Homo sapiens: one gene and its partners. The protein of the gene in region 1 purifies or fractionates together with the protein of each later gene. This does not show direct contact. Each region holds a gene or a part of one and is shown in the gene's direction. Other genes may lie near its edges. The genes, in order: EPAS1, CNOT7, AKAP8L, DROSHA, SOX10, CHD1L and CUL2.

Evidence for each region.
Region 2: the proteins of EPAS1 (region 1) and CNOT7 purify together in Homo sapiens (affinity purification with mass spectrometry, with the first as the bait; one large-scale study listed by BioGRID). This does not show direct contact.
Region 3: the proteins of EPAS1 (region 1) and AKAP8L purify together in Homo sapiens (affinity purification with mass spectrometry, with the first as the bait; one large-scale study listed by BioGRID). This does not show direct contact.
Region 4: the proteins of EPAS1 (region 1) and DROSHA purify together in Homo sapiens (co-immunoprecipitation; one study listed by IntAct). This does not show direct contact.
Region 5: the proteins of EPAS1 (region 1) and SOX10 purify together in Homo sapiens (affinity purification with western blotting; one study listed by BioGRID). This does not show direct contact.
Region 6: the proteins of EPAS1 (region 1) and CHD1L purify together in Homo sapiens (affinity purification with western blotting; one study listed by BioGRID). This does not show direct contact.
Region 7: the proteins of EPAS1 (region 1) and CUL2 purify together in Homo sapiens (affinity purification with western blotting; 2 studies listed by BioGRID and IntAct, with this or other methods). This does not show direct contact.

What each region holds. Positions count from the first base shown.
Region 1 is NC_000002.12:46,384,407-46,387,197, forward strand, and holds the end of EPAS1 (endothelial PAS domain-containing protein 1), read left to right. Parts: intron 1-102; coding exon 103-254; 3' UTR 255-2,291; downstream 2,292-2,791.
Region 2 is NC_000008.11:17,229,858-17,233,357, reverse strand, and holds part of CNOT7 (CCR4-NOT transcription complex subunit 7), read left to right. Parts: intron 1-820; coding exon 821-931; coding exon of another isoform or gene 932-937; exon of another isoform or gene 938-1,846; intron 1,847-2,509; coding exon 2,510-2,638; 3' UTR 2,639-3,181; coding exon of another isoform or gene 3,182-3,223; 3' UTR 3,224-3,500. UniProt on the Homo sapiens protein: Has 3'-5' poly(A) exoribonuclease activity for synthetic poly(A) RNA substrate. Its function seems to be partially redundant with that of CNOT8.
Region 3 is NC_000019.10:15,384,489-15,387,988, reverse strand, and holds part of AKAP8L (A-kinase anchor protein 8-like), read left to right. Parts: intron 1-3,500. UniProt on the Homo sapiens protein: Could play a role in constitutive transport element (CTE)-mediated gene expression by association with DHX9. Increases CTE-dependent nuclear unspliced mRNA export.
Region 4 is NC_000005.10:31,466,094-31,469,593, reverse strand, and holds part of DROSHA (ribonuclease 3), read left to right. Parts: intron 1-1,530; coding exon 1,531-1,655; intron 1,656-3,312; coding exon 3,313-3,412; intron 3,413-3,500. UniProt on the Homo sapiens protein: Ribonuclease III double-stranded (ds) RNA-specific endoribonuclease that is involved in the initial step of microRNA (miRNA) biogenesis.
Region 5 is NC_000022.11:37,981,756-37,986,005, reverse strand, and holds the start of SOX10 (transcription factor SOX-10), read left to right. Parts: upstream 1-1,450; 5' UTR 1,451-1,667; intron 1,668-2,137; 5' UTR 2,138-2,221; coding exon 2,222-2,649; intron 2,650-4,250. UniProt on the Homo sapiens protein: Transcription factor that plays a central role in developing and mature glia.
Region 6 is NC_000001.11:147,277,184-147,280,683, forward strand, and holds part of CHD1L (chromodomain-helicase-DNA-binding protein 1-like), read left to right. Parts: intron 1-2,842; coding exon 2,843-3,008; intron 3,009-3,500. UniProt on the Homo sapiens protein: ATP-dependent chromatin remodeler that mediates chromatin-remodeling following DNA damage.
Region 7 is NC_000010.11:35,010,342-35,013,841, reverse strand, and holds part of CUL2 (cullin-2), read left to right. Parts: intron 1-41; coding exon 42-143; intron 144-1,877; coding exon 1,878-1,994; intron 1,995-3,399; coding exon 3,400-3,500.

The sequences.
Region 1 (2,791 bases):
AATTAGGGCTGCTCTATTGGTATCCCCCAGTCACAAAGAAGTAGACACTTTTCCAAATGTTCGATTTAGGCCTTTAAGTTATGGTACCAACCCTTCTTTCAGGCATGGCAAGCCGGCTGCTCGGGCCCTCATTTGAGTCCTACCTGCTGCCCGAACTGACCAGATATGACTGTGAGGTGAACGTGCCCGTGCTGGGAAGCTCCACGCTCCTGCAAGGAGGGGACCTCCTCAGAGCCCTGGACCAGGCCACCTGAGCCAGGCCTTCTACCTGGGCAGCACCTCTGCCGACGCCGTCCCACCAGCTTCACTCTCTCCGTCTGTTTTTGCAACTAGGTATTTCTAACGCCAGCACACTATTTACAAGATGGACTTACCTGGCAGACTTGCCCAGGTCACCAAGCAGTGGCCTTTTTCTGAGATGCTCACTTTATTATCCCTATTTTTAAAGTACACAATTGTTTTACCTGTTCTGAAATGTTCTTAAATTTTGTAGGATTTTTTTCCTCCCCACCTTCAATGACTTCTAATTTATATTATCCATAGGTTTCTCTCCCTCCTTCTCCTTCTCACACACAACTGTCCATACTAACAAGTTTGGTGCATGTCTGTTCTTCTGTAGGGAGAAGCTTTAGCTTCATTTTACTAAAAAGATTCCTCGTTATTGTTGTTGCCAAAGAGAAACAAAAATGATTTTGCTTTCCAAGCTTGGTTTGTGGCGTCTCCCTCGCAGAGCCCTTCTCGTTTCTTTTTTAAACTAATCACCATATTGTAAATTTCAGGGTTTTTTTTTTTTTGTTTAAGCTGACTCTTTGCTCTAATTTTGGAAAAAAAGAAATGTGAAGGGTCAACTCCAACGTATGTGGTTATCTGTGAAAGTTGCACAGCGTGGCTTTTCCTAAACTGGTGTTTTTCCCCCGCATTTGGTGGATTTTTTATTATTATTCAAAAACATAACTGAGTTTTTTAAAAGAGGAGAAAATTTATATCTGGGTTAAGTGTTTATCATATATATGGGTACTTTGTAATATCTAAAAACTTAGAAACGGAAATGGAATCCTGCTCACAAAATCACTTTAAGATCTTTTCGAAGCTGTTAATTTTTCTTAGTGTTGTGGACACTGCAGACTTGTCCAGTGCTCCCACGGCCTGTACGGACACTGTGGAAGGCCTCCCTCTGTCGGCTTTTTGCCATCTGTGATATGCCATAGGTGTGACAATCCGAGCAGTGGAGTCATTCAGCGGGAGCACTGCGCGCTATCCCCTCACATTCTCTATGTACTATGTATGTATGTATTATTATTATTGCTGCCAAGAGGGTCTGATGGCACGTTGTGGGGTCGGGGGGTGGGGCGGGGAAGTGCTCTAACTTTTCTTAAGGTTTTGTTGCTAGCCCTTCAAGTGCACTGAGCTATGTGACTCGGATGGTCTTTCACACGGCACATTTGGACATTTCCAGAACTACCATGAGATGGTTTAGACGGGAATTCATGCAAATGAGGGGTCAAAAATGGTATAGTGACCCCGTCCACGTCCTCCAAGCTCACGACCTTGGAGCCCCGTGGAGCTGGACTGAGGAGGAGGCTGCACAGCGGGAGAGCAGCTGGTCCAGACCAGCCCTGCAGCCCCCACTCAGCCGGCAGCCAGATGGCCCCGCAAGGCCTCCAGGGATGGCCCCTAGCCACAGGCCCTGGCTGAGGTCTCTGGGTCGGTCAGTGACATGTAGGTAGGAAGCACTGAAAATAGTGTTCCCAGAGCACTTTGCAACTCCCTGGGTAAGAGGGACGACACCTCTGGTTTTTCAATACCAATTACATGGAACTTTTCTGTAATGGGTACAATGAAGAAGTTTCTAAAAACACACACAAAGCACATTGGGCCAACTATTTAGTAAGCCCGGATAGACTTATTGCCAAAAACAAAAAATAGCTTTCAAAAGAAATTTAAGTTCTATGAGAAATTCCTTAGTCATGGTGTTGCGTAAATCATATTTTAGCTGCACGGCATTACCCCACACAGGGTGGCAGAACTTGAAGGGTTACTGACGTGTAAATGCTGGTATTTGATTTCCTGTGTGTGTTGCCCTGGCATTAAGGGCATTTTACCCTTGCAGTTTTACTAAAACACTGAAAAATATTCCAAGCTTCATATTAACCCTACCTGTCAACGTAACGATTTCATGAACGTTATTATATTGTCGAATTCCTACTGACAACATTATAACTGTATGGGAGCTTAACTTTATAAGGAAATGTATTTTGACACTGGTATCTTATTAAAGTATTCTGATCCTACCACTGCTGGTGGCTCTTATTTCCTGTGGATTTATCATGGGCTATGCCAATGTAAAGTGAAGTATTAAGTCGTTCATATAAATTGAACATTAGCACAGACCTTTATGAGACTACTGAAGTGAGCTGATAAGACTGGTGAAGGAAAGACTGTGTTAAATACTTGGTAGTTGCCTAAGTCTGAAAATTCATATTGTATCTTCCATATTTCTGCAAGTATTTTTCTATCTATCTATCTATGTGCCTCGGGGCCATTTTTTGTATCCTATGGGGAACCCAAGGAAAGAAGTCATGGTCTCTGCTTTCAGAAAATTACATGAAGTCGTTTGAGAGCCACACTGTTCTGTATATTCACATAGTGCACTTTGGGATGGAGGTCCCGAAGGGAAAGGGGCAGCCTGGGCATTAGGACTTCAATTTGGAGGCGGCTGGGCTGGAGTAGGGTCTTCCCAGGTAGACTGTGATTGGGAAGAGCAGAGATCCCCTCGGCCAGAGACAGAGCA
Region 2 (3,500 bases), on another chromosome or scaffold:
TTTAGCGCAGAAGCAACTGCTGTGCAAAGCCTTGTTTCAAGCTGTGATGCACAGAAGGGCCATTTTGCCGGTGGAGGCCTTAACAAGTTAGAGAAGAATTTTTGTTTTGTTGTTGGTGTTTCTTTCCTTCACGCTCTACTTATTCTCCCCTCCCTTTACTCTCCTTGCCTGTCCTCCCACTTTCTTTCCTTCTGTTACTGTCTTTCTCTTTCTTTCTTTCCACTCTTTCCACTCTCATCTTTCTTTTTTAATCTTAGGAGTATTAACATAGGTGGATTATAGCAGACCACTCTAAGGAGTTGTGTGCATATACTCGTCTTAACTAAGAAAACCATAGTGAAGCATTTAGCATACTCTTAATGATTATTCATAATGGCTTTGTTTTGTAAAAATTAAGTGAAAACTACAAATGGATGGTGGGAAGTTTAAGAAAATATGAAAAAAATGGTGTTATACTAGCTTTTCAGTTTTATAATTATTACTGGATTGATAGACTATGAGTGTACTTGATAAATATTACCCTATATGTGGTCTGCTTCCTTCCCATATCTAGGAGAGTATTTACCTGTCATATGCCCTAAAACATGATGAAAATACATTTTCCCAATTAGGATCTTGTTTTCTATTAAATGATACTTTTTCCGCATTCAACAAATACATTAGTAATTCACATTCTCTGTTTCTTCCCCCCAATCTTTATAAGATTCACCTTTACATACTAAAGTTTATTTTTATTTTGGTCAGCGTCTAAGTTTATAATTTGTGAATTTAGGCCTTGTAAGATTTTTCTTCTTGACAAGCAATTTTTTATTTTTTCTAGGGTGGATTACAGGAGGTGGCAGAACAGTTAGAGCTGGAACGGATAGGACCACAACATCAGGCAGGATCTGATTCATTGCTCACAGGAATGGCCTTTTTCAAAATGAGAGAAGTATGAAGACATCACTGCCTTTTTCTCAGTTGGTTGTTAGGTTGAGAACATTAAAAATCTTGTGGCCAAAGATTTTGGGCAACAAGTACCTACTAAGTAAAGATATAATTAGAGATACCATATGAGTCACATCCACCACACTTAAAAGTATTCAAAAATAAGTCATCTTGAAATGTAGTTCAGAAGGAACTGGGAGAACATGTTCATCATAGAACCAACAATTTTAAAACATAAACTACCTGAGAAGTCATGTAGGTCCAACCATATTATTTCTCAGGTGAGAAAACAGGCTAATAACTTCCATGATTAAACACATTACTAGTGGGAGAACTCCAGAGTTCTTTTCTGACTCCCATTGGTGCTCCTCCTACAAGGCAAGGAATCTTTATATTAGGTTTATTCTAGCATGACCCCTTTTAAGGTTTAAACTGGTGATAAATATATTATTTGCTCATGTCATTCTTCAGTGCTTTGAAGATTTTATAGAGAAGAACTCAGGCTCTTTTACTGCATTGAGTCTTAAAAGGGGGGTTGAATTCCGAAGGGATCAAATAAATCCAACGTAGTAGTTGCATCAGAAACCATATTAGGAAAACCCTCCTTAAACGGCAAAAGGCAGAGATCAGTTCCTTGAGTATAAAGTGTTAGGGATGGAAGAATGAAACTAAATGAACCCATTATCTACTCCTAAGTAATTAAGTGATGTGCACAGATACACCTAGCTATAGGTAAACAGGAAAATTGGTTGTGCAAAAAACAAGTGAGGTTTTTCTTGACTATAAGTTTTCCCTTTTGGAAAAATTCGCTGTGGATTTGAGTATATTTTCTCTTAGACATTAAATTGAGACTGAGAATTTAAAACTTTTTGTAGCAATGTATTGATAATAGAAAGCATTAAAGCTGTTTTGCTAAGTAGTGTTGTTGATTCAGAAGTGATTTGGACTATCCATTCATGACACGTAAATATTTTGTTTTGGACTCCTTCCAATTGTTTCATTAGATAATTGAAACAACCTTTTGGATTTTTTAGCTTTGCATTTTAAAAATGTCTTAATGGTTTATTTAACTAAAGGTGGATTTCTGGCACTAATTTATCTTTATTTTTCTTGGCTTCTTCAAGGACAGTAATAGAGTGTGAATGTTTGGATTTTACTGTCCATGACTTTATGGTTTGATCATTTATAGCCAGCTCAGCCTTGCATACAGATTTAAGACAGTTTATGAACCTAAACTTTTTTTCCCCCACCATCATTGGCTTTCTTCATTCTTGAGTATTGTTAAATTAATGGAATAGTTATTTTTCCATGATGAAAAATTCTTATAAAAATGGTCTAAATGGAAAAGACATGCATTTATACACTTTTTTTGTAGTCTCTTTCTTTGGTTTCTGAGCTCTGTACTTTTGAGGACATTAGTCTTACTCATTGAACTGAAATGCGTAGCCTCAAAGGAACACCATAGAAAAGAGCCATCATTATTGTCAGTGAACAGTCAGTACTTACATTGCTGAAATATAAATTACAAGTGGTTCCTTTTGGTTAAAATTATCTTTTTTTTTTCTTCAAAATTCCTTTTTAGATGTTCTTTGAAGATCATATTGATGATGCCAAATATTGTGGTCATTTGTATGGCCTTGGTTCTGGTTCATCCTATGTACAGAATGGCACAGGGAATGCATATGAAGAGGAAGCCAACAAGCAGTCATGACATGAAATAGTCCTTTTATTTTTATTTCGAGCTACACACATGCTTGTATATAGGTTTTATCTCTGGTTGAATCCCTCGAACAATAGACAGTACCTTTCCCCCCCCTTTCATGGCCCATTTTATTGTCTGCCTTTCAGTACTAAGTATGACCGTTCCTATCTCAGATCTTAATAAAAAGAAAAAAAAAAACGCATTCAGGTTAAATTTGGCCTTAATTTAATATACTTGTTAGCAAGCGTGTGTGACAGAGAGTGGGGAAAGCTACATCATTGAATATTTTGATAAACTTTACCGACTTGAGTTTGGTTTATTTTTCCCTTTTCCTAAATTAACTAGCACTGACTGTAATTTATTTCCCTGTTTCACGTCTCTCCCTTCCATTCTGCAGGAGTTTTAGCTATTTGAGATCGTGGACCATCAGTTTTGCACTTTAGAGAGTGTTTCTGACTCTAAACCTGTTTTATCAGAAAATTTGTTTTTTCTTGATCTTAGCTGGAAAAATCTGCCAACTTTACACAGTATTTACTTGGTTTTGACCCACAGAATATAGCACGTTGTGCAAACTGTCGATTCAGCGAAACTTAAAAAAGACAAGAAACTACTGAGGAGCTTAGTAACTGCTGTTTCTGTACGTAGTGTTTAATCTTCCAAGCACATCTAGTGTCTGTCAGTTTCTAATTGGCATGTGTAGGCTGCTCTGTGACTGAAGAATTTTCAAACCAGCTTTACACCCTTCAGGAAAAATCCCTTGTGATTGGATGTTTACTATCTGCCAGGAAACTGGTACTCAAGATGTTGAAGCTACAGTTATTTTATGATAGCACACTTCCCTTGATCTGCTTATTTTTATTCCATCACCATT
Region 3 (3,500 bases), on another chromosome or scaffold:
TTTTCCCCTCCCCTCCCCGCCCCCTCTCCCAGACAAGAGTCTTGCTCTGTTGCCCAGGCTGGAATGCAGTGGCGCGATCTTGGCTTGCTGCAACCTCCACCTCTCAGGTTCAAGCAATTCTCCTGCCTCAGCCTCCCGAGTAGCTGGGATTACAGGCATGTGCTACCACGCCCGGCTAATTTTTGTATTGTTAGTAGAGACGGGGTTTCACCATGTTGGCCAGGCTGGTCTCGAACTCTTGATCTTATGAGCCACCCACCTCAGCCTCACAAGGTGCTGGGATTACAGGCGTCAGCCACTATGCCAGGCCCAAGAGGGATGGTTTTTGAGGTGGTTGTTTGAGATTTATTCTGAACCCAGGGAGTCTGTTCTTAGCTATTTCACTGGTCCTTGTCCTCTTTGGTAACCTAGTTAGCCTATGGGTTAGCTAATATCACTGTCAAATCTACCGGTCCTTCTTTTTTATGGCTGTGTGGTGGGGGAAAAAAAAAAGGACAAAGCTATCAGTGTTTAACTCCAATAAATATTCAGAAAGAAAAAAAAAAGCTATCAATGTCCTTTTAATTTTTTTCCTCCCTAGTCTCCATTGTTTTTGAGAGAGGCCCTAGTCTTGCACTTCCCAACACTCTTGCCAGTGAAGTCAGTCAGTTCCTTTGAGATTGGGAGTTTACTGATTTAAGGCCGTGCTCTCACTGTGGGCAGAATCTCTGAGCCAAGGCTCTGGGGATGGAGACAATGGAGTACCTCTCTCTGAGTGACTCTGCCACTTTAGGAGAGACATGGGAGGAGGTACAGTAGGCTGTAGCCTCCGGTCTTGGTTTGCCTTTCCTGGCATGGGACCTCTGCTTTATGAACAAGCCATGGGTATGTGAGCCCTTATATTCTTAGTGTGCCATGCCCAGGGTCAAGCCTCCATTCCACGTGCGTGTGGCTGGGTAGAAGATAGGAACCGTTCTCTCTCAGCTATGCTTGTCTAGAACTTAGCCTCATCAGCAGGTAGCTGGGGGCGGGATGAGAGATACTGACATCCGGCTGGGTACAGTGGCTCACGCCTGTAATCCCAGCACTTTGGGAGGCCAAGGTGGGCAGATCACCTGAGGTCAGGAGTTCAAGACCAGCCTGGACAACATCGTGAAACCCCATCTTTACTAAAAATACAAAAATTAGCCGGGCTTGGTGGCGGGCACTTGTAATCCCAGCTACTCGGAAGGCTGAGGCAGGAGAATTGTTTGAACCCGGGAAGTAGAGGTTGCAGTGAGCCGATATCACGCCATTGCACTCCAGCCTGGGCAACCAAGAGTGAAACTCCAACTCAGAAAAATAGATGCTGACATTCTGTTCCTCCTGGGAAGATATCATACCCCTTAACTGAGATGATCTGGGTAGATGCGGGCAGACCTGTCTTCTTGGCTGTACTGTCTGGAGTGGAGTTTCCATCACACTAAGCTGGGGGAGGCAGGGATGCAATAGGTTGTGTTTCAGACATCACAACTCTTCATGGAACTGAGTTTTAGTAGCTTTTCCTCATTAAATCTTTCTCATAGGGCTGTATGTCCTTAGGAACATTTTCAGAGACTTTAAATGGTTGTTTTTTAATACTTTTCATCAGTTTCACTAGGGAGTGTTCCAGGGAACGCCTCAGACTGCTATGCTAGAGTCTGTCCTCTCAATATTTAGGAAGCTTCTTAAACCTTAATTCCAAAATTCTGATAAAGATGATACCAAAATGAAACTGTAGATTAGTTTACTATTATTAAAGATATGAAAGTGGGCTGGATTGGCCGGGCGCGGTGGCTCATGCCTGTAATCCCAGCACTTTGGGAGGCCGAGGCAGGCGGATCACGAGGTCAGGAGATCAAGACCATCCTGGCTAACACGGTGAAACCCCATCTCTACTAAAAATACAAAAAATTAGCCGGGCGTAGTGACGGGCGCCTGTAGTCCCAGCTACTCGAGAGGCTGAGGCAGGAGAATGGTGTGAACCCAGGAGGCGGAGGTTGCAGTGAGCCGAGATCGCGCCACTGCACTCCAGCCTGGGCAACAGAGTGAGACTCCTCAAAAAAAAAAAAAGAAAAAAAAGAAAGAAAGTTGGCTGGATATAGTGGCTTATACCTGTAATCCCAGCACTTGGGGAGACTGAGGTGGGAGGATCATTTGAGCCCAGGAGTTCAAGACCAGCCTGGGCAATATAGTGAGACACTGTGTCTATAAAATTAAAAATAAAAAAATTAGCCAGGTACTGGGGCCTGTGGTCCCAGCTACTTGGGAGGCTGAGGTGGGAGGATCACCTGAGCCCAGGAGGTTGAGGCTGCAATGAGCTGTGATCGTGCCACTGCATTCCAGCCGGGGCAACAGAGCAAGACTCTGTCTCAAAAAAATAAATAAAATGAAGTGCTAAATAAAATATTAGTAACTATCAATCTAGTAGTGATCCCTATGTATGATACATTATAAGTAAGGTTTGTTTCTGGAATGGAGGGATGGTTCCCTAAGAAATCTAGCAACAGTTGCCGGGCGCGGTGGCTCATGCCTGTAATCCCAGCACTTTGGGAGGCCGAGGTGGGTGGATCACGAGGTCAGGAGATCGAGACCATCCTGGCTAACACGGTGAAACCCCATCTCTACTAAAAATACAAAAAATTAGCCAGACGTGGTGGCGGGCGCCTGTAGTCCCAGCTACTCGGGAGGCTGAGGCAAGAGAATGGCATGAAAGGCCGGGCGCGGTGGCTCACGCCTGTAGTCCCAGCACTTTGGGAGGCCGAGGCGGGCGGATCACGAGGTCAGGAGATCGAGACCATCCCGGCTAAAACGGTGAAACCCCGTCTCTACTAAAAACACAAAAAATTAGCCGGGCGTGGTGGTGGGCGCCTGTAGTCCCAGCTACTTGGGAGGCTGAGGCAGGAGAATGGCGTGAACTCGGGAGGCGGAGCTTGCAGTGAGCCGAGATCCCGCCACTGCACTCCAGCCTGGGCAACAGAGCGAGACTCCGTCTCAAAAAAAAAAAAAAAGAGAATGGCATGAACCTGGGAGGCGGAGCTCGCAGTGAGCTGATATCGCGCCACTGCACTCCAGCCTGGGCGACAAAGCGAGACTCCGTCTCAAAAACAAAAACAAAAAATCTAGCAATATTATTGGTATAATGCAAACTCTCTTTATGTGCAAATAATGTGATTATGCTCTTAGAAAAGCTGAATGATCCCAGCAAAATGTTCTTAGAATTAATAGAATTTGGTAAGGGGATGGGATTCAAAATAGCGTACAAAAAGTCGTAGTGTTTCTCTATTCTAGTATTAACCAGTTAGAAATTTAAATGGAAAAAAAACTACTTAAAATAACCACACAATGTATGAAATAGCTAAGAATACAGATTTAAGAAGAAAGACTTGAGGGCCAGGCATGGTGGCTCATGCCTGTAATCCCAGCACTTTGGGGAGGCTGAGGCGGGTGGATTGCCTGAGGTCAGGAGTTTGAGACCAGCCTGGCCAACATAATGAAACCCT
Region 4 (3,500 bases), on another chromosome or scaffold:
GTATCCTGCTGTTTTGTTGTACAAAATAATGAAAGTAATTCTTTGACCTTAAATAGCACGTTGCTACTGTTGATGGGCATTTAAATAATTTTATAATGGATTACATGTGAACAAAATATTTTCCATTTTCAAATTTTGAGAGCAGAGACCAACTTTTCAAGAAGCTAGTGACATTTTGTTTGTTAAATGACACTTAAAAAGTTTGAGGGGTTTTTTTTTTGTTTTGTTTTGTTTTTTGAGACAGAGTCTCACTCTGTTGCCCAGGCTGGAGCACAGTGGTGCGATCTCAGCTCACTACAACCTCCGCCTCCCGGGTTCAAGTGATTCTCCTGCCTCAGCCCCCTGAGTAGCTGGGACTACAGGTGTGCGCCACCACGCCCGGCTAATTTTTGTATTTTTAGTAGAGATGGGGTTTCACTATGTTGGCCAGGCTGGTCTCGAACTCCTGACCTCGTGATCCACCCGCCTTGGCCTCCCAAAGGTTTGAGTGTTTTAAGTAATGTGGGTGAATTCACCCAAGTTTATCCCTTTTGTCACCTCATTGAATATTTGTCAGATGGCTGGCTGGTATCACAGTTGTAGGTAGAGTGACCAGTTTGTCCCAGTTGCTGAGAGATTTCCTGGTTTTAGCATTGAAATTCCTCTGTCCCAGGGAAACCAGGCAGCCAACCAGACTCTAATTGTTGGGCATTGTTGTGGGACAGAATGAAGATTATTGGCCTCTGTGTGAATCAGTTTTAACAGCCTTAGCCTCCAAAGCAACTGAGCCGCAGACTCTACAGTGTGCTAGTGAAAACTGAATCTCTAATTGAGACTGTCCTGAGAGGTGATTATAAGGAAGGAGGTTGCTGAAACCTGTTCTCTGTGATTTTACCATCTTTTCATAAATTTAAGCTTTCAAGATGAAAGCCATTTCACAAATGATCCAGAAGGAATGAGCCATTCACTTCTTCCTTTATTAGACATGAAGAAAAAAATATGAGGCTCTCTGTTAAAATACACAAATGTCCTACATGGACATAATAAAAGAAGCTTAACTATTTGGCCTTTGCACCACTATACTTTCTAACTTAAAGATGTAGAATTAAAGGAATACATAAGATCCACTGAGAACAAGTGAGGGAAAAAACTTAAATAGAGGCATCTGTGCATTCTGAAATGTGAAATTAAAGCAGAAGAGGCTCTGCCTGTGATGTGGAATCCTTCCCCTGTGCCTTCAGAGAGGTTAAGGAAAAGTTATATCTGACTAGGTGTCCTTTTAAAAGTTTAATTTTTAAAGGTTTCTATGTGGACTGCAAAAAAGGACAAAATCATTGTTCATTATGCCAAATGGCATAGGCTCATTTACAAGGATGACATTATAGTTTTTAGATAGTATAGCTGCTGTAATTAAAGGGTTTTAAATGACCTTTTCCCTTTGGGGACAAGGCTTTCCTGGAAAAAAGTCCGATTTATTCCTTCCCTACTTAGGTTAAAGTCAATACATAAAGACTTCTTATGGGAATAAATGGCTTTGATTTTTCTCTCTAGAAACCAAGCTCTGTCCGTATCGATCAACTGGATCGTGAACAGTTCAACCCCGATGTGATTACTTTTCCGATTATCGTCCACTTTGGGATACGCCCTGCACAGTTGAGTTATGCAGGAGACCCACAGTAAGATATTTCTCAGTGTTTGTCTTAGCCAATTTCACCTTCTACTAACAGCCAAATTAGCAGAGAAATACCCTTTAGTGGATGTTTCCTTTTTAAAAATTAAGACCTGAAATGAGCCATACTTCCAATTTAGATTACCCAAATGAAACAATTGTGGTAGCTCCTGAAGAATTATTTTCTGTACATATTTGAGTGCAAGAAACTATTATTCAATAGAATATTTTTGGCAAACTTGGTCAACATAAGTCCTTGTATGTTTTTAAACTTTAAGGAACTTTTTCTTTATTCATCCTTATAATAATAATTATTATTTTTTATTTTTTCAGTGCCCTCTAGAGGAAAGTAGCACATATTGGTTCCTAGCACTGCCGAATTTATGCAGAGTTCTCTTTTTGGGGGCATCTTAAGAGTTCAAGATCACATGCAAAGTCAAGGTTGTGTTGGAAGTAGGAGCCGTGACTTCTGACTCTTAGGATTGATGTAACTTTCCACGTTTTGATTTTTCCAACTGGCATGTTAGTGTTTTCTGGGAGAAGATTTAGGATGTGTGGGAATGGAGATAGTACCATTAGATTCTTCGGGACTGTTTGGATTTCCTACCTTGCTAAACACACAAACAGCTTCCTGACTTATTTTTTTTTTTTTTTTAAAAAGGATTCATAGTGGGAGAAAAGGGCATGGGAGATTTTCAATTCATAAATACAGTTCTGGCTGACATATATTAGAAGAGGCTAAAGGGTTTTGTTCTTTTTTTTCCCCCTTTGGATAAAAGTATGAAGCAGTGAACCAGGCACTGTGTAAGTACTTCTTTCTTTCCTCCATTCTCTTAAAAAAAAAAAAAAAAGTTTTCAAAAAAGGAGAGGCCCAGCTAAGGCCAAGAAAGGAACAGTTTTAATGTGACAGAAAATCTTTGGAAAATCCCTTCTTGTCAGAAAAATGTTAGTAGAATGTGATGAGGCTCTCGTGGACTCTCAGATGGCAGGACTGTGAATTGATAAAGGACTGCATATTCGCTTCATTTCCAGGACGCTTTGACAGTATCCTTTAGACTGGTCTAGGTTATCACTTATTTGGCTGCAACAAATATGCTTATATTGTCATGGTAAATACAAATTGGTATACACCATTAGTCTTTTATCCTCTCCAGTGGACAAATGGATACAGCTATGTAGCTTGGGTTTTGGCACAAATGGGGTTCTCTATTCTAATACTCTTCAACTTATATTTGGTATAAGTAGTTCAGCAACTGACAGTCTCCCTAAGGAAGGGGTCTTTCTTTCAACAAATATCAGAAAGTGTATATTTAAATAAAATCTGTTATTTTCAAGAGGTAACAGTGAGAAACAGGATGATTCCTTTGGTTGAGGTGTTTTTGTGTCTTTGGAATTCTTTCCAGAGATTCATTCATATAGTCACACCTCATTTCCAACTGAAATAAGCAATAATCAACTTAATCACCAGGTTCCAGTTGACTCTTGTCCATCCTGACTCTCAGCCTCAAAGTCATAGCCTTCCTTAGAATGATGGCTTTCTGCCATTAAGAATAATCAAAAGAATGTAATGTATGATTTGAAGAGGCCTCTTAAAATAACTGGTTTTGTTGCATTTTAGGTTTACCTCCTCTTTACCTGAGATGTTTGCCTGTCCTTTTCCTTAGGTACCAAAAACTGTGGAAGAGTTATGTGAAACTTCGCCACCTCCTAGCAAATAGTCCCAAAGTCAAACAAACTGACAAACAGAAGCTGGCACAGAGGGAGGTCTGTATCAAACTCCATTCCTTGGTGATTAACGATGATGTGCTTCAGGTTTATTTCGTGATTGTTGTATCACACTATACTTCTGGTA
Region 5 (4,250 bases), on another chromosome or scaffold:
GCGCCGGGGGTGGCGTCGAGGAAAACTGGGGGGAGATTGTCCAAGGCCAGCAAGCGAGAGAAAGAGAAAACCCTTATCAAACTCCTAATTCACTGGGCTCCGAGGCCCCAGACACACTGGCCCGATTGTCTGGCTGGTTGTGTGTGTGAGCATGTGTGTGTGTGTGTGTGTGTGTGTGTGTGTGTGTTCCAGTGTCTGCTCCCCCCACCCCCAACATGCCTCTGCCTCGTGTGACTACCTCATTGTGTCCCATTTCCCACCCCCTACACCCCTTTGGACTTTCCCAAGCATGAGGCCTTGCCTCCCCAGACCCTTTGCAGCCCACTCCAGACAGGACCCCTTGGGGTGGTCTTGGGGCTTTGCCCTGCTGTTGAGGAGCTCAGAACGTCACATGGTTGCCAATGCGACCCCAGCTCCATTACATAACCCACATACACCCCACCTCGGCCTCAACACCCCGGCGGGGCTGCCCTCAGTTAAGAGAACAGCACTGCGACCTTTGGAGGAGAGGCCAAGGAAAGAGAGAGAAAAAGGTGTCAACGGAGGATGGGCAGGAAAGAAAAGGGGAGGGAGGGAGAGGTGGGCAGAGGAGGGAAGAGGCAGGGCAAGTCCCCACCCCTTGTTGGGGTGGGGGAGTAGAGGACTTCGTGACAATCAGGACTAGGACTCCCCTACCCTCTCCCAAGACAGGGTGAGCCCAGTGTGGAAGGAGCTGGGTCCCAGTAGGTAGCAACCCAAAATGCCTCTAAGACCTACTGAGAGAGGGCCCCCAACCTGTCCCACCTTGGCCTCCTGGCAGCTTTAGTCTTGTGTTTCCACCTTGAACCAGACCAGAACGCGCGTGTGCTGGGTGTCTGCAGAGAAGGGACCAGGGGTCAAGCTGGGGCTCTGCACTTCTCAGAGGGATCCCTGAGAAGTCTCTCTTACTGTGCAGGATGGGGCAGAAAGGGCTGCCTGGGAAAAGGTAGGAGGCAGGGTGAGGAGCTGGGCATCAGTGCCTGGCACACACTAGGCACTCAACAGGATTTCGCAGACGAAGCAGCTAGGGCCAGCCACCCTCACGGGCCCCCAGGACCCTCACCGCCTTCACGTCTCTCCCTAGTCCCCTGCCAAGTGCCCATCCTGCCACCTGAGGCAGACGTTAGGAGTCCTGGTTGGGCCCAATTTTCTTCCATCCAACAGGTTCTGACCCTCCAGCCTACATCTCTTCCTTCCTCGGCCTAACCTCCCCTCCACCTCCCAGACTAAGCCCAAGATAAGCCTCAGCAAGATGGGCCTGGGCAGTAGGGCAGGGAGCTGGGTGGGGGGGCCTGGGCTCCGGGTGGAGGAGCCCTGAGTGTTGGGGATGAAGGAAAGCCTGGAGGCTCCACCTTCTGCCCTTCCCTCCCTCCTCTCCCCTCCCCCCTCTCCCCCTCCTTCCTTCCCCAGCCCTCCGCAGCGGCTCAGGCTCAGTCGCTCAGTCAGTCTCGGGCTGTCCGGCCAGGGTGGTTGGTGGTAAGGATTCAGGCTCCGTCCTAACGAGGCCGTGGCCTGAGGCTCAGGGCCCCCCGCCCCTCCCTCCCAGCCCACCAGCGTCACCTCCCAGCCCCGAGCTGGACCGCACACCTTGGGACACGGTTTTCCACTTCCTAAGGACGAGCCCCAGACTGGAGGAGAGGTCCGAGGAGGTGAGTGCGCAGCCTGCTCCTCCCTGGCCCGCCCAGGCCTGGGACCCTGCTGTGAGGTGGAGAGAGGCGACACCCCGCCCTTGCCCCCCACCTGGCTCTCCTCTAAACCCCGTTGGGGCAGGCTGAGGGAAGAAGGAAAGGTGAGAGAAAAGGTGGGAAATTCCAGGGGCCGGGATTAGAGCAAAATAAAGGCTCCGTTTTTTTCTTCCTTATCATCAACAAACCTCCACCCAAAAAAGGAGGCTAAAAAAAAAGCCACCCACACCAAGAGACGGTTGGGACCAGGTGGTGGGAAGACACAGAGGCGGGACGCACCCACCTAGAGTCTGGCATGTGCGTGGGCCCCAGGGGCCAGATGGGTTTAGCTGGAGCAGGAAGGGCCGCCACCTCGGGGCTGTGCCCACGTCCTGTCTCGGGCCGCCCTCGGGGCTGCGCGCGCGGCCGCTCCATCGCGCCCTCCTTCCATCCAGGTGGGCGTTGGACTCTTTGCGAGGACCCCGGCGGCTGGCCCGGGGGAGGCGGCCGAGGCGGCGGCGGCGGCGGCCGGGGGCGACATGGCGGAGGAGCAGGACCTATCGGAGGTGGAGCTGAGCCCCGTGGGCTCGGAGGAGCCCCGCTGCCTGTCCCCGGGGAGCGCGCCCTCGCTAGGGCCCGACGGCGGCGGCGGCGGATCGGGCCTGCGAGCCAGCCCGGGGCCAGGCGAGCTGGGCAAGGTCAAGAAGGAGCAGCAGGACGGCGAGGCGGACGATGACAAGTTCCCCGTGTGCATCCGCGAGGCCGTCAGCCAGGTGCTCAGCGGCTACGACTGGACGCTGGTGCCCATGCCCGTGCGCGTCAACGGCGCCAGCAAAAGCAAGCCGCACGTCAAGCGGCCCATGAACGCCTTCATGGTGTGGGCTCAGGCAGCGCGCAGGAAGCTCGCGGACCAGTACCCGCACCTGCACAACGCTGAGCTCAGCAAGACGCTGGGCAAGCTCTGGAGGTGAGCACCCGACCGCCCCCCGGGCTCGGGCCCTCTAGCTTCGGGTGGATTCAGGGTAGCCGAGGCGGCCCGGCCTCCTGCACCTCAGAGCGGGACTGTCTGGCAGTCCTCCTTGGATAGGGCTGGAAGACCAGGTGTGGGGGCCGCGCCCGCCCTTCCATCACAAGGACCCTGGAACTCGGAACTCCAGCGGCCTAGGCCGGGTCTCCCTACGGGGCGGCGGGCAGGAAGGCGCCCCCTCGTGGTTGGAATTTTGCGGGTGGCAGACCGTGGGGCCTGGGGCTTTGGAGGGAGGGAAGGAGGCCTTCACTAACTCCTGCCCACAGATACGCACACTATGCCACCAGCTGCTGTGGTCAGGAGGATACGAGGGAAACGCTTGGAAAGAACCAAAGGGTTGGCTGGAGATTCAGGGAAACTGAGGCAGTCAGATGGAGAACTCAGGGGAGGTTTAAAGAAAACGGAATTCAGATGAGAGTCTTTGGAAGAGTGAGGGATGAAGAACTGCGGGACAAATCTGCTGCTGCGGGACCTCATCCTATCCTAGGGCTCTTCCCTGGGACTTTCTGACGCCACCCTCCTTTGAGTTGGGGGCTTCTTCATCCTCCTAGGGAGAGGACACACAGTAAGGGGCTCCCCCTCCTGCCCTGCCCCAGAGTCACCAAGCTGATCTCTTTCCTCCCTCTCCCAGTTCGGCGCCATCTTCCCTGCCAGGGCCCCACCCCAACGTTGAGCAACCTCTTCCCCACTGCCCCAGAGCTGGAGCTGAGCACTCTGGCCAGAAGGAAACCTTGGCCTCCTTCCTGCCCAGGGGCCCTCAGAGTCCCAGGTTCCCTGGGACCAGCCCACACCTCTAGGAAAAACATCCCCCGCAGGGAGCAATTATCCCACCCTCGACTCAGGTCTGGGGTTCAGCCAGGCCTCCTGGGGATGTGTGGAACAAGACAGTCCCCCACTCCCACCCGGGAGTGCCAGAGCAGCTCTGAAAGAGACCAGGGACTCCAGGAGATGTGAGCCGGTAGCAGTCACCTGATTCTCGCTAGACTGACCAAGAGACAGGCCCAGAAAGGCAAAGGAATCACAAAGGTCACATAGAAGTTGGTAGCAGAGCCAGGGCCAGAACCCAGGACTCCCATACTCTCTGTCCAGAGGACTTCCCCTGACCCTGGTGACAGTGGTGGATCACCTACACTTTGAGGAGTGGTCAGGAGGTTGGGGGGAAGCAAGAAGATGAGAACAAGAGTGAGGAGCATCTGGGTTCCAGAAAATTAGGGCTTTGTCAGAGGAGCCCGGCTCTCTTCCGCTGCCCTCCCCCTTGCCAGCCACAGTTGGGTAGAGATTGGGTCTAGAGGCTTAGAGTGGTAGAAGGTGCAGGAGGATCTCCAAGAGACCAAAAGATTCACATCCCGCCCCCTGGCCTGTTCTTGCCATGTGTTTGCTGAAGACCTGGTGCCCCTTCCCCTGCCCCTTCTCAGCCCTCAGTGCCCTGCTCACCCAGGGCAGGCCCAGGGCTCAGCGACCAGCCCGCTGTGTGGACCCAGACAGCCCAGTTCTGCCCAAGAGCAGAGGTCACAGCTAGCTCCTCCACCCAAGGTCCATCC
Region 6 (3,500 bases), on another chromosome or scaffold:
AAAAATACAATATAAACAAACTATTGTTAGAGGCAGACTCAGACAAAAGGAAAGAATTTTATTTGTAAAAGTTTGCAAGATGGACTAGGATTGGAAAGGACTAGTCCATCAAAAAACATAAGTGTTTAAGAGAGAAAAAGTGACACAATATTAGAAGCAGAGTTACTAAGTTTGTAATTAGTCTGAAAAAACAGCAGTTTTCTTACATGGTTACCGTATCTGCAAAGGCCAGTGCATATCTTTACATATCAGTGTTGCAAAAGACAGGGATCCTGTTGTTTTTGTTAGGGAGTTAGTAATTACAGGAAAGGCTCAAGGTTTTATTAATTTTGGGACTAGAACTAGAAAGAGTAACACTGGGTTTGTTCTTTGTTTATCTTAGGGGGTAGGTGTGGCTTTTTTCTTTTTCTGACTTTCCTTGTGTTGCTGACTGTGTCACATGCATGCTTAATTAACCATAATGGTGCTAGGGCAGGCTGTACATTTTGTTTTCACACTAAGAGACAATTATAAATGTGAGATGAAAGCTTGAGAGAGAGGTAGAGGTACGCTGTAGATACCCTTAAATGCAGTTTTCCACAGAAAAATTATCCATAGAACCTTAAGAGAGAGAAGGTCACTGCTGGGCATAGTGAAGGGGTAAATGACAGAGCCTCACAAGGCCCGCATTCTCTTGTTAGAGGAGGAAGGATGTCATAGGTTGTTTGCACTCTCCCAGTGGAGGGAGCGCCAGGGGTCCAATGAGGGGTATCTTGTGATGTGGGCTGCTGGACACATCACTGTGAAAGATGTAGACATACCTCCACCCCATGGGGCCACAAACGAGTGGGAACATGGACTGCTGGCTGAGAGCGACTCTGTTGGACTTCTTGCCCAGCTCATGGTTATCGGAAAGTTACTTTCTGACTCTAATGTCTGATTTATCTCTTCCCCATGCAGATGCTATGAGTTATTTGTGGTTACCAAAAGCAAAGGTGATAACCCAGAGCCCTTGTCTAAAAAGAAAGCAGGGGATTTTTGTTTGTTTTTGTTTTTTGGGTTTTTTTTTTTTTTTTTTTTTGAGACAGAGTCTCGTTCTGTTGCCAGGCTGGAGTGCAGTGGCGCGATCTCAGCTCACTGCAACCTCTGCCTCCCGGGTTCAAGCAATTCTCCTGCCTCAGCCTCCTGAGTAGCTGGGACTACAGGCGCGCACCACCACGCCTAGCTAATTTTTGCATTTTTAGTAGAGACGGGGTTTCACCATGTTGGCCAGACTGGTCTTGATCTCCTGACCTTGTGATCCGTCCACCTCGGCCTCCTAAAGTGCTGGGATTACAGGCATGAGCCACTGCGCCTGGGGGTATTTTTTTTTTTTTAAATACCAAGAAACCAAAAGTAAAAGATGTGGTTCTGATTTGGTAAATCTAAGCAGTAGGTATGGAGTTCTGAAGTCCTGAAAGAAGGAAACAGGTTTTTTATCCTGCAGGGAGGACACAGTAGAAACAGGCAGGCAGATGCAGGTGTAGTGAACACTTATTGGATACTGTGTGCTGAGTGTTGTCTGAGGTGCTCTTTTCCAGTTGTTTCAGTAAATAAGAATAACAGCAGGATGAGATAGACACTATCTTTATCCCCATCTTAAGTAATTTGCCCAAGGTTATTCAGATTTAGGATTCCAATCCAAGCACTCTCTAACCTCCGAGCACATGCCCTTAATTACTGTAATATACAGCTTCTCATAAAAACACATGTAATTTTCTTAATGACTAAGACACATTGCAAGTGAGCAATAACAAGGGAGAGCCAGGAGGTGAGCATAAGTACAAGGGGGTGAAAGGGAGGGTCCCAGTATGGACCAATTCTTATCATAAATAGTTGGCTTCCTACTATTTTTGGTACCAGCTGCCAAAGCCAGTCATCCTGGTTATGTGTATGGAGGGTAAATATAATATATCTAGGTACATTCATGCTTAAGTGAGCTGTCTATTGTTTCTTCAAGCTGTTACAGAATACCTTAACATTTCCAAGTTACTCACAAAATAGACGATCTGGAGATAACCCAGTCTAAAAGGGCAAGATGAGAACAAGGGCCCAAGGTTTGAATCCACCTTGGGTCAGGATCTCAGAATTAGTGCTTACGGAGGTGCAAAGTTGGAAGTAGCAAGTGAAAGCCAGGAAAAATTATCTGTGCTTTCTGCATGGTTCCTACAGCCATAGGGAATAGGCTGAGAGTACTCCAGAGAGGGACGAGAGAAGAGAAGCAGGATAGTGCAATGCCAGAGGAACATCCAGAAAAATTCAAACTGAGAAAAGGCCTTCGGGTCTGGTGGTCAGAAGTTGTTACTGATCTTTGCCAAGGTGGTTTCGATAGACCACTGTGTTAGGAAAACAAATTGCCAAAGAAAAGGAGTCAGTTCATGATAGAGGTAAAGTTCCTAGTGTAGCCTTCCCTTTCTAAGGAGTCTGGCAGTGGAGAGGTTGGAAAGTAGCTAACAGGGTCTCTGATCTCAAGTGGCTGCTGGGAATGCTTATGAAAAAGTCAGTGAGAGGTGCTGTAGAAAATGCAGGAAGTTACTATTATTCTTCAAAAAAATTGGAGGCTTATACATTTTTTTTGTTTTGTTTTTATGCAGAATTGTCAAAGTCAATACCTCTGATAATCATTTATCACCTCTCTGCTTACCCATCATCCAACTATTAAATGGCCCTGGCTGTTACTATCTATGATGGGGAGAGCAGAAAGGCTGCCTGTTCATTAGAGAAGGACTGTGCCTGGTGTCGTTAATCCACTTAGCCAATCACTGATATCCTAATGTTTCTTTTCATGAGAATTTGCTGGACTTTTTTGTTTCCTCTATTCAAGTTGAGTGAGATACTCAAATTTGGTTTGGATAAACTGCTGGCCTCTGAGGGGAGCACCATGGATGAAATAGACCTGGAGTCCATCCTGGGAGAAACAAAAGATGGCCAGTGGGTCTCTGATGCCTTGCCTGCAGCAGAAGGAGGGAGCAGAGATCAAGAGGAAGGAAGTAAGTTGGAGGTTAGAGCAGAGCAAATGGCACAACCACCCCAAGCTAGAGCTCACGTCCCCATGGAAAGTTTTGGATGCTGCTCTCTGGGGCATCTTTTTTCTCCCTTACCCTATTGTCATTTGGGCACACTGTTTAAGACTTGCTTGATAAAAGAACGTTACCCAAACTAACTGGAAATTTGTGTGGCTCTTCCCTTGTAGCTGAACTGTGAACCAAAATCATAGTATTAATGTTTATGATAGTATCAATCTTAAGGCTTTGAATTTGTACCTTTTCTCCCTTGGTTGCAAACATCTTCTTCTTTATTAGTAAAGCCTACCATCCTTGGTATGATGCTTTGCACATAGCGATTCCTCTTCTAAACAGTAGAATTACTTGTTTTTAAAATTGCAGCTAACATTAAGCATTTATTTTGCGTTCATCAACAGTGCGGACTTTGTCATGTGCTTTTTCCATTTAATTTCTGTAATCCATGAGATGTAGGAGATG
Region 7 (3,500 bases), on another chromosome or scaffold:
TTTGGTTTTTATAAATATAAATGTTTTATTTTTAAATGTAGGAAGATATTGATGCAGAATCTTCGTTTTCATTAAATATGAACTTTAGCAGTAAAAGAACAAAATTTAAAATTACTACATCAATGCAGAAAGACACACCACAAGTAAGTGCTTTTAATGTCAAGTTTTTTTTGAGGGGGAAACATTTAAGCATTGGACTTTACAAGTGTTTACATTGAGATTGTGCAAAACTTTGCACAGCAAAATTAATAATGGGATATGTCTTTTCTGGTTTGTTGTTGGCATTTATTAACCTTACAGTCAAACAGAAATCTCTACTTGTATTTTAGTTTTTTCTAAGGAAAAGGGTATGGTTTTGTTGTATTTGCTCTTAAACCATTAGAATGTGTAACTATGCATTCTCTCCGAAAATTCCCACATTGAGAAGTAATAAAATTTCATATTTTTCATTTGTAAAATAAGGGAAAGTTCTCCAGTTCATTTTTTTTTTTTTTTTTGAGACGGAGTCTTGCTCTCTCGCCCAGGCTGGAGTGCAGTGGTGTGATCTCGGCTCACTGCAAGCTCTGCCTCCCGGGTTCACGCCATTCTCCTGCCTCAGCCTCCTGAGTAGCTGGGACTACAGGCGCCCACCACTATGCCTGGCTAATTTTGTTTTTTGTACTTTTAGTATAGACGGGGTTTCACTGTGTTAGCCAGGGTGGTCTCGATCTCCTGACATCGTGATCCGCCCGCCTCAGCCTGCCAAAGTGCTGGGATTACAGGTGTGAACCACCGCGCCTGGCCTACAGCTCATTTCTTTCAAAGAAAATTTGTCAGTAGAAAATGCTTCTTAAACTTTCATATGCAAATGAGCCACCTGGGCATCTTGTTCAAATGCAGATTGTGATCTAGTGGGTGTGGAGTGAGGTACTGACAGGCCAGTGTGAGGAGGGGACTTCTGCTCTTCATTATTTTAACTCAGCAGTGATTGTTGCTTTGGTCTGGGATAGACTGTTTCTATCACTTATGCTTCCTGATTGCCTCCGGTGTGCAGTCCTTGGGCTGATGCAGGATGTGAAGATAATATAAGATGTTAGACCCTCTCCAGAAACTTAATTCCCGATGGGGGGAGACAAATATTAACTGCCATTTACTTTGAAACCTAAAATGGTCAAGATTCCATTTTCCTCCAGGCTAATAAATAATAATTTGCAATATATAGATTGTATTTTGTCTTTGAAACGCTGTGAGGAGATCCTCTTAATGTGGCATGGTCTGCTTCTATGCCTTGCTTCTGTGTTTCTTGAGCTCCGTGGAGATAGGCCCCCTCTCCTGGCTTCTCTGCTTGAGCCACATAAAATGCCACTTCACAGCTCTTCCCTTTGAAGCCTGATCCAGTATGCATTTGGAGCTAATTACTGCAGTTGACACAACTCCATCTAAAAGCGTCATGAAAGATTCTGTAATCACTGATAAGAAAATGATCTTGCAAATTATTGCTGTGTCCTCCTTTATTGCCTCTTTACCTTAACAGTACAGTTTACAATAATGTAAATTTTTTTCTAATCTTTCAACTTTAACCCTAGAAATTGTAGATGTTTTAGCAGTGGTTATGTGATATTGGCACAACATAACTATATAATTTGCTCAATATTGTGGTGCATACCTGTAATCCCAGCTGCTCAGGAGTCTGAGGCATGAGAATCACATGAACCCAGGAGATGGAGGTTGCGGTGAGCTGAGAGCGAGTCACTGAACTCCAGCCAGGACGACAGAGTGAAACCCTGTCTCAAAAAAAAAAAAAAAAAAGTATTTGCACTCACTGATAAAATGAATTGAAAACAAGTTCAGTGACTTAATGTCTTGTTGGGTCTTTTTTCTTTTCTTCTGTAAAACAGGAAATGGAGCAGACTAGAAGTGCAGTTGATGAGGACCGGAAAATGTATCTCCAAGCTGCTATAGTTCGTATCATGAAAGCACGAAAAGTGCTTCGGCACAATGCCCTTATTCAAGAGGTAAAAGGAGGGCAGTCCTCAGGGCTTCTTAGGGTAGAGGGCATTGTCATTGTACAGATTCAGTCTCTTTCTTCTTAAAGAGGATACAGAAATAACCTGATCCTCAGATAGCATAAAGAAATGTTTCATACTTAATCAGAATCGTACTCACTCACAATTTCAGTATTAAATTCAGATTTGCAGGCTGGGCACAGTGGCTCATGCCTGTAATCCTTTTTGTTGTTGTTGTTGAGACAGAGTCTTGCTCTGTCGCCCAGGCTGGAGTACAGTGGCGTGATCTTGGCTCACTGCAACCTCTGCCTCCCAGGTTCAAGTGAGTCTCCTGCCTCAGCCTCCCGAGTAGTTGGGAATACAGGCGTGCACCACCATACTTGGCTAATTTTTGTATTTTTCGTAGAGACAGGGTTTCACCATGTTGGCCAGGCTGGTCTCGAACTCCTGACCTCAGGTGATCCACCTGCCTCGGCCTCCAAAAGTGCTGGGGTTACAGGTGTGAGCCACCATGCCCAGTGGACACCTGTAATCTGAATGTCTTGTTAGGCCAAGACAGGAGGATCACTTGAGTCCAGGAGTTTCAGACCAGCCTGGGCAACACAGGGAGACCCCATCTCACCTAAAAAAAAAAAAAAAAAAAAATTAAAAAATTAAAAAATTAGCCAGTTGTGGCGGCACACTTGTAGTACCAACTACTTGGGAGGCTGAGGCGGGAGGATTGCTTGAGCCCAGGGATTGAGCCTGTGTGACACAGTGAGATGCTATCTCAAATGATAATAATAAATTCATATTTGCTTTGGCTTTATTTTAGAGGTCTAAAACTTGCTGATTCATTGAGTCTTCTGTCCAGTTATTGAAGGAAATTGACCCATCAGATATTCATTCATTCCATAACTATCTGAGCCTACCATGTGATAGACAGCTGGGCTGGTCCCTGGGATATAGCACAGAGCAGCTGAAGATATGGCAGGCTTTTTTGGAGTTCACAGTTTAATGGGGGAAGAAATACACTATTGAAATGATATGCAAATAAATGTAAAATTACATTAGCATGCACTGAAGGAAACGTATACAGTACTATGAGAATGTATTTAAATATCCTGGCCTAGGGGCTGCTGGGGAAAACTTTCTTGAGAAAGTGTTTGAACTAAGAGCTGAGAGTTGAGTTAAATAGAAGCTTGGGGTTGTGTGTGAGTACTTAGGTTAATTAGTTTATTGTTTCACTTAATTATGTATCATTATTAGATTTTGCTGTATCCATTTTCCACATTGTAGTTCCTATTTTCATACTTAATTTGGCCCATTTGTTGAAACCTCAGTACATTTGAGGCACTTTAAACTGATTGGTTAAAAGTCATTACTTAATAGCTGAAGAACTGGCAGTAGTTTGACTTCCACATCTCTTCCACAGGTGATTAGCCAGTCAAGAGCTAGGTTTAATCCCAGTATCAGCATGATTAAGAAGTGTATTGAAGTTCTGATAGACAAACAATACATAGAACGCAGCCAGGC